Linked DNA regions of Homo sapiens: all the other regions are reported to be linked to region 2. The links are microRNA targets in miRTarBase. Many come from high-throughput screens and were not tested one by one. Region 2 holds a microRNA gene; each other region holds the end of a gene's coding sequence.

The links. The annotated mature microRNA hsa-miR-30d-5p reads UGUAAACAUCCCCGACUGGAAG and lies in region 2 at 2,834-2,855, opposite strand. An mRNA with a match to its seed (bases 2 to 7 or 8) in the 3' UTR can be bound and repressed. Matches are read on the target gene's strand: a 7mer-m8 pairs with bases 2 to 8, a 7mer-A1 pairs with bases 2 to 7 and ends in A, and an 8mer does both.
Region 1: the mRNA of PHTF2 is a reported target of hsa-miR-30d-5p. Seed matches in the 3' UTR shown: 8mer at 819-826 and 7mer-m8 at 1,563-1,569.
Region 3: miRTarBase lists SLFN5 as a target of hsa-miR-30d-5p. The part of its 3' UTR that is shown has no 7-base or 8-base seed match.

The regions. Positions count from the first base shown.
Region 1 is chr7:77,954,174-77,958,424 of GRCh38, forward strand. PHTF2 (putative homeodomain transcription factor 2) reads left to right here. Exons shown (of 19, transcript NM_001395272.1): 19 at 685-3,052. The coding sequence ends at 705. Among named protein-coding and RNA genes, the nearest start is that of DDX3ILA1, 34 kb to the right of the region's middle.
Region 2 is chr8:134,802,086-134,806,336 of GRCh38, forward strand. It overlaps MIR30D (microRNA 30d), which reads right to left and starts at 2,860; the gene lies at 2,791-2,860. It also overlaps a transcript of ZFAT not described here.
Region 3 is chr17:35,265,044-35,269,294 of GRCh38, reverse strand. SLFN5 (schlafen family member 5) reads right to left here. Exons shown (of 5, transcript NM_144975.4): 5 at 1-4,223. The coding sequence ends at 3,407. Among named protein-coding and RNA genes, the nearest start is that of SLFN5, 24 kb to the right of the region's middle.

The DNA.
Region 1 (4,251 bases), not on the chromosome of region 2:
CCCAGGCTGGTGTGCAGTTGCGCGACCTTGGCTCACTGCAACCTCTGCCTCCCGGGTTCAAGGATTTCTCCTGCCTCAGCCTCCCAAGTAGCTGGGACTACAGGTGTGCACCACCACGCCTGGCCAATTTTTGTATTTTTAGTAGAGACAGTGTTTCACCATGTTAGCCAGGCTGGTCTCGAACTCCTGACCTCAAGTGATACACCCACCTTGGCCTCCCAGAGTGCTGGGATTGCAGGTGTGAGCCACCGCGCCTAGCAAGAAGTATTTATTTTTACTAATAAAGCTTTAATTTAGGTGATAAAAAAGAAAAAAGCCTTATTTCTATTTTTGGCCAAAAGTTGTATTATTTATCTGTATAGCAATGCATACATCTTCCAATATATGCACAACTAACTGTTAGGAAGGTGTAAGATAATCATATTAAACAAGTACTGTGTATATATATATATATATATATATATATATATATAGCCACTTCTCAAGAGAAAGCAATAGAAATCTGATTTTCACATTTTTGTTTGTGTTTAAGGTGAGTTCTTCTTAAAAGGATAAAGGAGTTAAAATATTAGAAACTGCACTTGTTTGTGAATGAAATTTGAATTTAAAAATGGTGTTATATGATATAATTTAAGCTTTGATATTAAAACTGGCTTGTCACCACTTCTATTTTTTTTTTTCTAGCTATGGAAGATTAAGTCATGACAATTCAAAGAAAAGAAGATGTAGCCTCTTTTCCAGAATAAGAGTACTGACTAAGCTGCCTGAAAGCTTGTCACTGATTCTTTGCTTCAGGAGTCTCAGCTAGGGAGTTGAAGTGTTTACATCAGACTGTCTTGTGCAATTCTTATATTTATTTTACTGGTTCACTTTTTTTTACATTTATTTTAGTCTTTATATTTTTATTTTTAAGCATTGATGTACTTAGTTGTTGAAAGGGTGATGAAACTGATATCCAGATACTTGAGATCCTGGTAATTGGTCATAAATAATTGGCAAAATAACAAATTGTGAAAATAGAAGCCATTGCTCAGCACCGTTTCTCCATCAATGCCGTGAACTTGCCTTACTTGAGGAAAAATTCTTTAACTTTGGAATATTGCATTGAACTCAGCTATACACATAAAACATTTTCTTTGGTAAATCAAGATCCAGTCAGGGTTTCTCTTGAATTATTTTGGAACAATGCCAGGATCCAAACTGATTAAGTTACAGTTTAAGCACCCTTCAGTATTAATATATACGGTATTATATAACAGGTCAACAAGTGCTCTTTGATGATAAAACTTGTAATAGAGCAATAATTGTAAATGGTTACCATACTGTAAGATATTTTGATAAAAATTAACTAGTAATACTTGTATTTATTTGAAACACTGGGCTGTTTGCACAGCTCCAACTGTGCATGCTCAAAATGTGCACTTTTTAAAATTGTTACTTTTAATGCGTATCTTTATATGGGATCTGTTATAGTATACTAGGGCATGATATGGTATCCTTTTGAGTGAGGTATATACTCATCTCACAAGTGAAGTGCCTACTGATATTACTAAAGTACATTATGTTTACTCAAGTAAATAATTTTCTCCCCATGGTACACTCTAGTGTAGGCTATTCATACCACACTGAAATGAACAACTGAAGAATAAGGCTAAGAACCAATAAAATATTTCTCTAATTGCTAGTTGTAAAACTGTATCCAAATTTTCAGAAAAGACAGCTTCAGCTTGCAAATTCTATCCTCTAAACTTATCTGGTGCATTCTCCCCACCCCACCCCCATTATATAAGGGCTATTTTAGATGCTTTTAACCTCCCCAACAAATAATTTGCCAAGTGTCCAATGAGAACTTATCATGTTGGTGTGTTAGGTAAATCGGGCAAATATGATAGTGTCTTACATTGGGCCTTGATTTTAAGTTGTTATATTTGTACAATCGAGTATTTTAGAAATTACATGAAACATGAAACAGTTTTTGCAATTTTTTTTAAACTGGGCATCTGGTTTCTAAAAATTTATTTGAAACAATCTAGAATTTTCTTGGTGCAAAGTGTATCATGTGGAATATCCTCATATTTTTACCATATTTTAAGAACTTTAAGACGATTAATTGTAAATAATTTATTTGATTGGTGCAGTTCTAATCCCTAAATCATAATCTTAAAATCAGGAATGTGTGGAGAACAGAGCCATGTCATATCACTTTGCTCTTACCATTCCTTTTGATCAGCCTCAATTCAGCCTCATTGTGTAGTATGTTTTTTCTTTCTATGAAAAACAACAGAAAGCATTTCATTTTATTTGCCTATGTTCAAATATGTTTAATAATGACCAAAGTGCATTCTGAGTTTTTTCAAGGAATGTAATACTGGAGCTTTAAGAACATACTTAGTTTCTCATGTGAAAACTTAGGCTTTGTCTGATGTTTTTCCTTCCTCTATTGTCTAATGTTGAGGTTGTTTTTAGGAATTATGTTTTATAAACTTTTTCAATATAAGGTACATGCCTATACAGAACTTAACATTTTGCACAGAATATATCAAATATATTTTGAGAAAAAAAGTACGGCATGAGTTCTGTTAGGAATAAAAGATGAAACTATTGTATCTCACAAAAAATCTTATTTCAGAATGGAAATATTTTTGAGAAAAGTAGCTGAGTATACTGGTTTAAGAAAATGCTTGTTTTAGATTGAGGTTAACTTAGAGTTGGGAGTTGATTTATTAAGTACAGTATACCTCTCAACAGTTTATAAATAATATGTTGAATTATGTCAGTGTGGGCAGCAGTAGAATACTAAAAGGAAAATGTCATGTTAAGCAATTTCAGAACATTAACTGAACTATTTTCAAAGCAGAAAAATTGACATTGCTGCCTTTAAGAATACCATGAATGTAAGAAATTGAAAGAAATTGTAAAATATCACATAATATAGAAATGGCAGTTCAAAGAGAATTGTGGCAGATGTTGTGTGTGAACTGTTGTTTCTTTGCCACATGTGTTGTATTTGAAAGTTTTACAGTAAGTTTAAAATAAAACATTCTGTGACTGACGGTGTTTTTTTTTTTAATTTTCAGGTCATATACATTTCTATGGTAATTTTGTGTTTACTTAACATAAAATTTAGTTAGATTTGGGGGGAGTGAAAATAAATTTTTTATAACTTTCCAACATTTTAGATTTTGTTATGATTCTTAGAACATGAAAGAATAATACACAGGTTTTTCATCACCAAAATGATATTATATCATTAATGTTTGTTTGCTTCTTTGTTTTTGAATACAGCAAACTGGCTGTGGCCTGAAATATTAAAGCTCATTGTGAAAAGATAGTGGTTTTTTTGGTTTGTTTGTTTGTTTTGAGACGGAGTCTCACACTGTCACCTGGGCTGGAGTGCAATGGCACAATCTTGGCTTACTGCAACCTCTGCCTCCCAGGTTCACACCATTCTCCTGCCTCAGCCTCCTGAGTAGCTGGGATTACAGGCGCCCACCACCACGCCCTGCTAATTTTTTGTGTTTTTAGTAGAGATGGGGTTTCTCTATGTTGGCCAGACTGGTCTCAAACTCCTGATCTCATGATCTGCCTGCCTCGGCCTCCCAAAGTGCTGGGCTTATAGGCGTGAGCCACTGTGCCCAGCCGATAGTGGTGTTTTTAAACAAATGATTTTGCCACATGAATTTAGCATGAGAGATTATGATCAACAGTAGGATGGTTAAACATTCTAATATTTCTGTTATCTGATTGGTCCAAGTGTTCACTGGGCTTAAATTAATCTAGGACTATTAATTCAAGTGCACTTTCAAACTTACTTTAAGCTTACAAATGGCTCTTTTAATGAATCTCCCTTCATACTTCAAAATAGCAATATGACTGGCACTTCTTAATTGTTTGCTGTATCACTTAGAACATAATTCTCAACTTTTTTTCTGCCAAGCCTATACAAAAAGACACCACAAATGCTTAACAGTAGCACTGGCTCCCCAAAGTACTTACTGCCTGGGGAATCTAAAAGGCCATTAGGGATGGGAAAAACCCAAGTGTTTTTTTCTACTCTCACACCATTCAGCATAACACTTCTGATACCAGATTCTCTGGCAGACACCAACTGGGTGTTTTAGAATTTAACTCAGCTCTAACACTACACCCAAAAGAATGTCAGATCCCACAGGTTGAGGGCTCATTCCCACCAGACTGCCCCCACTTCAGATGCCAGGCACAAGACCCAGGTTGTGATCTGCCTCCCCATCA
Region 2 (4,251 bases):
GGAAAGCTAAAGCAAAGACAGCAGTGAATGTCAAATTACTAGGAAGTTTGTAATATGGTACAGATAAGAAAAAGGCAATGCCAAAACATGTAGCATGGGTCCACCCACAATTAACCAGGCTAGGCAAAGTGTGGCAGAGACTATCTGAAACAGCCTTATTTTAAAAAGTAACTAAGCCCAAACTGATATTCAAACTAAAAAAAAGAAACAAAAATATTACCTGAGCACACACAGCAAATAATGCACATTGATCCAATGAATAAAGCTGTAACAAGAGTAGAAGGGAATCACAGAACATGCTCGACGCAATACCACATGCATGCTGGGGTTTATAGGTTCACAGTCCATTTCTGGGTAACCTCAAGCCCATGACTCATGTAGAAGGAACTGAGGTGTGGAGATCAATGAGAACAAGTCCAACAGTGTATTTATATGACTATTTCTAACCAAGAATATTTGTACAAAAGCATCTAATTTGAAATAAATTGGAAGACCCAATTTTGTAATTAGTTATTTGCTTTAAAAAGTTGTCCCTAAGTCATTTCAGACCATATACTCAGGATAAAATACTGTCATTTACAGAATGGTGTTCAGTAACTAAAAATGTTTTACTTTAAATATCAATTGGTAGAACAAATCTTAAATAATAAGTAATTTCTGTGCTTTCTAAGTCCTATCAATGAATACCACAATTTTTTTCTTCAACACTAAGTTAAGGGCTAGGGAAACAAGTTATTACAGGCTTATTGACAAATACTGATGATCTAACATTTCAAGCCATTTGCTATAAATAATCAATTGCTAACCTTATAGGCCAATGGGAAGTTAGTGGTTCTTCAATATAAAAACATAAAGAAGCCATCTGAAAACTACTAAAAAAGGCTGTACCTATGTATTATACTATACTGAAGCAAGGGCATCCAGAATTAAAACTGACATCGTCTTTGATTCACCTCATTAGAGGCAGAATAATATAGAACAAATGTTACATAACACAGATTGCCCCATTAATCTGTAGCATCTAGGGATAACTGGCCTAGCTGGGCAGAGTATAACAGCTTTATTATAAAGAATGCCTACCCCCTCATTTAGCTTAGGTTTGGCCTTATCATTTTGAAAAACCTTTCAAATTTCACTGCATAAATTATGCATCCATCTTACTAAATTTTAAAGCAGTATATCAAAATTTTTCATAAGAAATAAACAGTGTCACCTGGTCAAACAAAATAATCCTATTACCACAGAACACATTACATTCTACCTTTGGCAGGGAAGACTTCTGAGCTCAGCAATAACTATCCTTTCACTGCTATTTGAGTCTAAGGTTTCCAATGTGCTAAAACAGAGGGCCACAGAATATGCAATAAATCTGCTTTATTTAGAGTTCATAGGAAGGGATGCTTGATGCATGCTAATCATCCAGCCTGAAAATTGTATTTACAAGTTGGAAAGCCACCTGAGTCTGAAGCAACTGACCCCCATCCCCAAATAAGTCTTATAAACTACTACTCTAACAAAAGAGCATTTAAAAAATAAAAGCTGTAGCACAAATACATCTGGGGTAACTACATTATGACCAAAACTGTCATTTGCTCATCTGGATAAAAGATAAGAGGCAACAGTAGACACTGCTGCAATAAGATAATATAAAATCATTACTAAAGTACTATACATGCAAGGTGCTTTACTTGCTGTTTATAACAGGAAAAAATAGAATTATCAAGATTTAATGTCTCTGACCTCAGAAAGCTTATAATCTAATCAAAGAAAATAAGCATGTAAATACATTAGATTGGCAAGACCTTTATCTTTTGGTGGTTTAATCATGTATGGAACCTAACATAGTATGTTTAGCAGTTTAATAAAAATAAATGATTTAAAAAAACCAATGCTTTATTGAAAAGAAAAATGCCAATAAAATAGAAATGTTTTCCAGTGTCTGAAAGACTAACAGAAATAAAATAACAATTTTTTAAAACTCAGAAAATAGTTGCTATAAAATTATACATTATCAATTAGTCCACACTGAGTGTCATCTGTGAGAAAAGCCCTGGATTATTCAGATCTGTGGGGAAACACAAAAAATAGATACAATACAGCTGCTTTCAGGGCAGCTATATTTTAAGGAGGAAGCAATAAATCTGAAAGCAACAATCTGAAAATACTTAGGAAAAATATTAATATAAAAAGACATGCATACCCATTAGCAAATGTAAACAGGCTTAGTGGCTTGACGTCTTGCAGTTTTTCTTAGAGGAGAGTTCTGATTAGGAGCTGTAATATCACTCAGGGTGAGGGGAACAGGAAGTGGGGGGCTAAGAGGACGGAGAAAAATGTTGCACACACATCTCTTTTAAGTATAGGGAAAGCTGAAATTTCTAGATTGCATACTGCTGGGTGGTAGTGATGAAATTATTCTCCAGAACTTCCACAGAATTTACAATGGAGAAAATCAGTCTCCTGAATTGTTGGGATGTTAAACTCCAGCCTACTTGGAAAGGTTATAAAGACTAAAATTTCATTGACAGGGCAGAAACAGGAATAGGCGGTGACACTTTTTATTTAACTAAATTCTCTAAGGCCCAGCAGCAGCACGCTAAGTCTGGGAAGCTCGAGACGGCATATCCTGTTATTAGGAGAGCACCCTACATTCAACTATCATAATACGTGCACTGTCAGTGCAGTAAAAGAATGCAGCTAAAGATTTCTGAGGTTTTCCCACACATTTTATAGCCTCCTCAACTCCACTCCGGGACAGAATTATATCAAGAGGATGTCTGTGAATAGCCGGTAGCAGCAAACATCTGACTGAAAGCTTAGCTGTGTCTTACAGCTTCCAGTCGGGGATGTTTACAACAACAGACTTTCTGAACAAGAAATTTAAGAGGAGGAACAGACATAAATGTTGCCAGTCATCATCTTCAGCTAATAATTTATATAATTTCTAGTGCTGAACAATAGCTGTGACATCTTGAAACAAAAATGATAAAGTTAATGCTAATAATTAAAGAGAAAGTGGTTCACCAAGTGCAATTTCTCCTAAATAAATCTAATTTTAAAAGAAAATACGCATTACAAATTTATCTTGGTAAGTATGAAACATTAAAGATATTACCCTGATATCCTACATGAGGATACATTTTTCCAACATATGCAAAAATAAGTTTTCTTCTCCCTAGAGTTTCAAAATAGTAAACACATTAGAATGATAACCCTAATGATCAGTGACCATACATTTCATGGATGCCTGCTGCCCTGACGTTATTGTTAAAAATGACTCCTTTTATTTAAAAAAGCGTTAATTTAGTTGACAATGAATAGAGTGGGTTTTCCTGGCAGAGGATCTAAACTGAGTAAGAATCTAACACTTTCTTCCCCTGTCTCCAGCTGATTTAGGTTAGGGATGTACAGTTCAAGGAAATGAGCAAAACAAAGAGGATAATAAAAGAAACTCATGATCTTAAATTTGTTTATAAGGCAATATACTAAAACCATTTTGTTTCCACACCACTTTTCTGAAAGAAAGGAAAAAGACTAAGTGAAATATAAGTAAATCTGCATTCCATCAAAAACCAAGATTTGCTTTAATTTAAAATATGTAAAATTGCCAGGCACAGTGGCTCATGTCTATAATCACAGCACTTTGGGAGGCCGAGGCAGGTGGATGGGTAGATCGCTTGAGTCCCGGAGTTCAAGACCAGCCTTGGGCTAAGTGGCAAAACCCTACCTCTAAAAACATACAACATATTAGCTGGGTGTGGTGGTGCATGCGGTCCCAGCTATTCGGGAGGCTGAGGTAAGAGGATCCCTGAGCTTGGGAGGTGGAGGCTGCAGTGAGCTGAGCTCATGCCACTGCACTGCAGCCTGGGCGACAGAGTGAGACCCTGTCTCAAAAAAAATAAAAATAAAAATAAAATAAAATATGTAAAGTAACCTTCTTTTGGGGAAAAAAACTATGAAAACAATTAAAGTCCACAATTAAGTCACAGTGATTTATGAAATGATTTAAGAAATGAACATACATACATACATGAGCATGCATATGTACACACACACTCTACAGAATAACTACTGAAGAAAACCAATATACAAATTCTGAGAGACTATTAATTTCCTAATACCAAATTTTTTGAGAAACTATGAGAAAAGGATTTCAGTTGCTGATATTTACCCTGTGATAATATTTAACGGTTGCTCTCTGAAATACTTTTTGTTTAATGTTGTAAATAACTCTACCCATTATATAAATAA
Region 3 (4,251 bases), not on the chromosome of region 2:
CTTGCTTAGCTAGATTTCCTTACTGAGTAACTTTTCTTCAAGAATGATTCATGGGTCCTGTATTTCTAGAACTCTTTTATGTTCAAAAATACCCATGTGCTGCCTTTGTACTAGAATAATATTTTGACTAGGTTTAATATTTTTAGGTCAAAATTTGTTTCCCTAAGAACTGTACACATGTTGCTTCACTGCCTTCTTAGATGCTTCTGGTCAAGATAGAGGAACAGGGACCATATTTATCCTCCCTCCTGAAACAATTGCAAAATAAGACAAAATATATGAAACAATTGCAAAATAAGGCAAAATATATGAAACAACAGGTCTCGAGATATTGGAAATCAGTCAATGAAGGATACTGATCCCTGATCACTGTCCTAATGCAGGATGTGGGAAACAGATGAGGTCACCTCTGTGACTGCCCCAGCTTACTGCCTGTAGAGAGTTTCTAGGCTGCAGTTCAGAGAGGGAGAAATTGGGTACAGTGGGACAGGCCTTCAACTCTTGTTTTATTGAATTTATGAACTTCTTAAATTCTTCTATGGCAGGAGACATCTATGGGGAGGCTTTGTTTGTTTTTTGAGACAGGGTCTCACTTTGTCGCCCAGGCTGAAGTACAATGGCCTGATCTTGGCTCACTGTAACCTCTGCCTCCTTGATTCAAGCAATTCTCTTGCCTCAGCCTTCTGAGTAGCTGGTATTACAGGCATGCACCACCACACCCAGCTAATTTTTGTATTTTTAGTAGAGACAGGATTTCACCACGTTGGCCAGGCTGGACTTGAACTCCTGACCTCAGGTGATCCACCTGCCTTGGCCTACCAAAATGCTGAGATTACAGGCGTGATCCACTGCGCCCAACTTATGGTGAGTTGTCTTTTGTCCCCTGAGTTATATATCCTTTCAGGATGGGTTCTTCATCTGGCTCATGTCATATTTCTTTTCTACATTTTTCCCCATTGTCTTTCGCCTAATGATCAGAACACTTATCTTTCTAATGCTTAATCAGGGCAGCTGGGTAGAGTCTTTCTTTTTACCTTAAGATAGTATAGAAGGGCTCTCTTTGACAACTTTCTTAGATGAAGTAGACTAGTTTGGCTTCTTCTCCAGTGTATAGCTGGAGGCCTGGGTGGTGTCTTCCATCTACTTTTGTGTAGCCTGATATGATCTGGTGTGAGATGAGGCCCTCGCTGTTAACCTGGTTTCTACTCTTTATTGTTGCCTAGGAACTTCCATTAAATCCACTGAATTCCATGAAGGAGGCAAAGCATCCAGGAATAAGACACAGCCCCCTTCATTGAATTCATGTGAAATCCTGGAAAATCCCTCCTGTGTCCACGGAGAGTCCCTGGGGACAATCAGGAGTTTCTGTGCTCAAGGGTCTCCCTGGCATTTCCCTGAGCTGCCTGCTCAATACCTCCGCCACCACCCTTCAAACTGGCCATATTAACAAGAATTCTGGTTTTCTTTTCTTTATGTGACATCTATTCATGACTACACTGGGCAGATGAGATAGTAGCTATGCCTTTATATAAAACTTTTAAATTCTTTTTTTTTGTTTTATTTATTTAATTTTTGGAGACAGGGTCTTGTTCTGTCACCCAGACTGGAGTGCACTGGTATGATCATAGCTCACTGTAACCTCAGACTTCTGAGGTCAAGTGATCGTCCTGCCTCAGCCTTCTGAGTAGCTAGGACTCCAGGTGTGCATCACCATTCCCAGCTAATTTTATTTATTTATTTATTTGTTTGTTTGTTTGTTTGTTTTTGTAGAGACAGGGTCTCACTATATTGCTCAAGCTGGTCTTGAACTCCTGGGCTCAAACAATCCTCCCACCTTGGCCTCCTAAAGTCCTGGGATCACAAGCATGAGCCACCATGCCCAACCTTTTCTAGTTTTTAAATTTTCATACATATCTATTAGATGTTTATAGTGTAAGGTTGAACTCCATTCTTTGCTTCTCTGTTGCTGGTAAATTTTTGGGTATATTTTTACTAATTTTGCACATTCTTTTACATATTGGTAAAGGAACAGTCTGTGATCTGGATTTATTCAGATCCTTATTCAGAATTACCAATTGTTTTATTAATCATTTTATCTTAAATGTGTCTCTACTTACTAGTGATTTGCAGTATATTCCAAGTTAGTTGTAAAAACATTTCACAATAGACTAATTTCTTGCTTTCCTGTGAAATTGTCTCAAATTTAAAAAGTAAAGTTCTTAATATTGTAAGTAGCTGCCAGAAATAAACCAATTCTAGCTTCAAGTTCATACTTCTTACAATGAGAATTTTAAATTTCTTTATTCTTGGGAAATAGCAGGGCCTTGCTGTTTTTAATAGTGAATTAACTCTGAATTTTTTAGTTTCTGTCTCTCAGAAAAGATGGATTTGTTTGGCTTTAAATATTGAGAGAGTTTCTAGAGACCCACAGGAAATGAGAAATTTGCACTTTTGTAGCAATGGCTTTTGAAAGACTAGCTAACATCCTGAAGACTCAGCAGAAGAAAGATATTAAACTGACTTTGTCGTTTTGTTGATTATTAAATTAAATGGAAAAACAAAATGTAACCTTTGAGTCCAATAGACTCATCCCCCTAGGCTCTCTATCATCTTCAAATCAATCAGTAAAACACAGTGTGCCTCCCTGGGGGACTGTGGCAGTCTTACCTTCATGTAGTAACCTAAGACGCTCCATAAGAATAAAAAATCAGAGCTAAGGAACAGATTCCACATAACCAAAAGGCTCACAAAAAGCATTTTAAAATATAGTGATCAAAAACACTAATGTCGTTAAAAGAAAAAGCAGAAAATAATAAAGTAATATAATGTGGTCTTGCAAAAAACAGTCTGTGATCTTACATTTCAAAACATGTCTTGCCCGTTCCCGGCACCTACAAGGCCAGATGAGCTACCTGCTCCATCCTTCACATTCTCGCTGCACGTCCCATTCAAGCTCTTCTGCAAGTGGCCATGTTAAAAATTTATAAAAATATCCGAGTCTGCCTGGCACGCTCAGAGATTCTCATGACAAGTTCTTCCCTCACTGAGCACTTCCCTGACCACCCAAAATAATCACCCCCTCCATCTACCTACACACATGTGCACGTGCGCGCGCGCACACACACACACACACACACACACACACACACACATCTCTGAGTCTCACGGTCCTCTAATTACTGATATCCCTTTTTACCATGGGAAATTCCTTGTCTATCTGTGTATTTGTCAGTGGTCTGTCTCTGCCCTAAAGGAGGAATCTTACATCGATTCGTTCTCAATCCCCAGCACCTAGAAAAGTATGTGACTTAATAAGTGAGTGTGTGCTTACATGTTTGGATTAAATGGTTTCACAGTTAATTAGAGATGAGAACCACTTAATTGTTTCTTAGGCTTGGGTTTCCTGTCACACAGAAGCCTTCAGAATATACAGATGTCTTTTTGCCCTAGAAGCCAAACAGAGCAGAAGATTGTAGGCCCCAGCCGGTGGGGCTACTCCTGGATTGATTCCAAACACGATATTTCTTTCCAGGCCTGAAAATCGACAGACACTGTCCAACACAATGTGATCGGTTAGAACATCCGACGCATCACCGATCTGTAGTAACAGATCAGACTCCTCATGGAGCTGAGACAGTTTTCTCTTCCTCATTGCTGTTAGAAGCCTGTCTTTATATTTTTCCACTTCACTTGCTTTGGTGAAAAGCACAGCAATATCCTTCGGAGAATAACCATTCCGCAAGAGAAAACGGCATTTATTCGCTACATAGATCAGTATCTCCTCCAAGTTCAAGTCTTCAATAATCTCTAAGTTGCCTGGGACACCTTGAGCCCATTTAGGTTCATAGAGCATCACCAGGGACCCAGGGGGGAGGTTAGGTGGAGGATTTTGTCGGGCTTCCTGCATTACTTGTTGTAGGTAATTAGCTATTGGACCTGCATTGCGGACCACTCTGTTGATCTCTTCTCTTGGATACTGGTCTGAGGGAGGGGGGAGGCCACTGCAACTCAAGTGATAGGTCTGAAAGTAGTCCAGAAAGATCCAGAGAACTCCTGGGCCATCCCTTGCTGTCTGAGTGATGAACTTTGCTTTCCCATACCAGTCCCCATCTTCAGTACGGAAATTCTGAGCGTCATCAATGATAATGTGCTGGATGTGTTCAAAGTTGTTTTTCATGAAGGTTTTCCGGGTCACTGGCTGGCAGATGTTTTTCTTGCTGAAACTGTAAGAAACAGAGTCAGGTTTTTCCC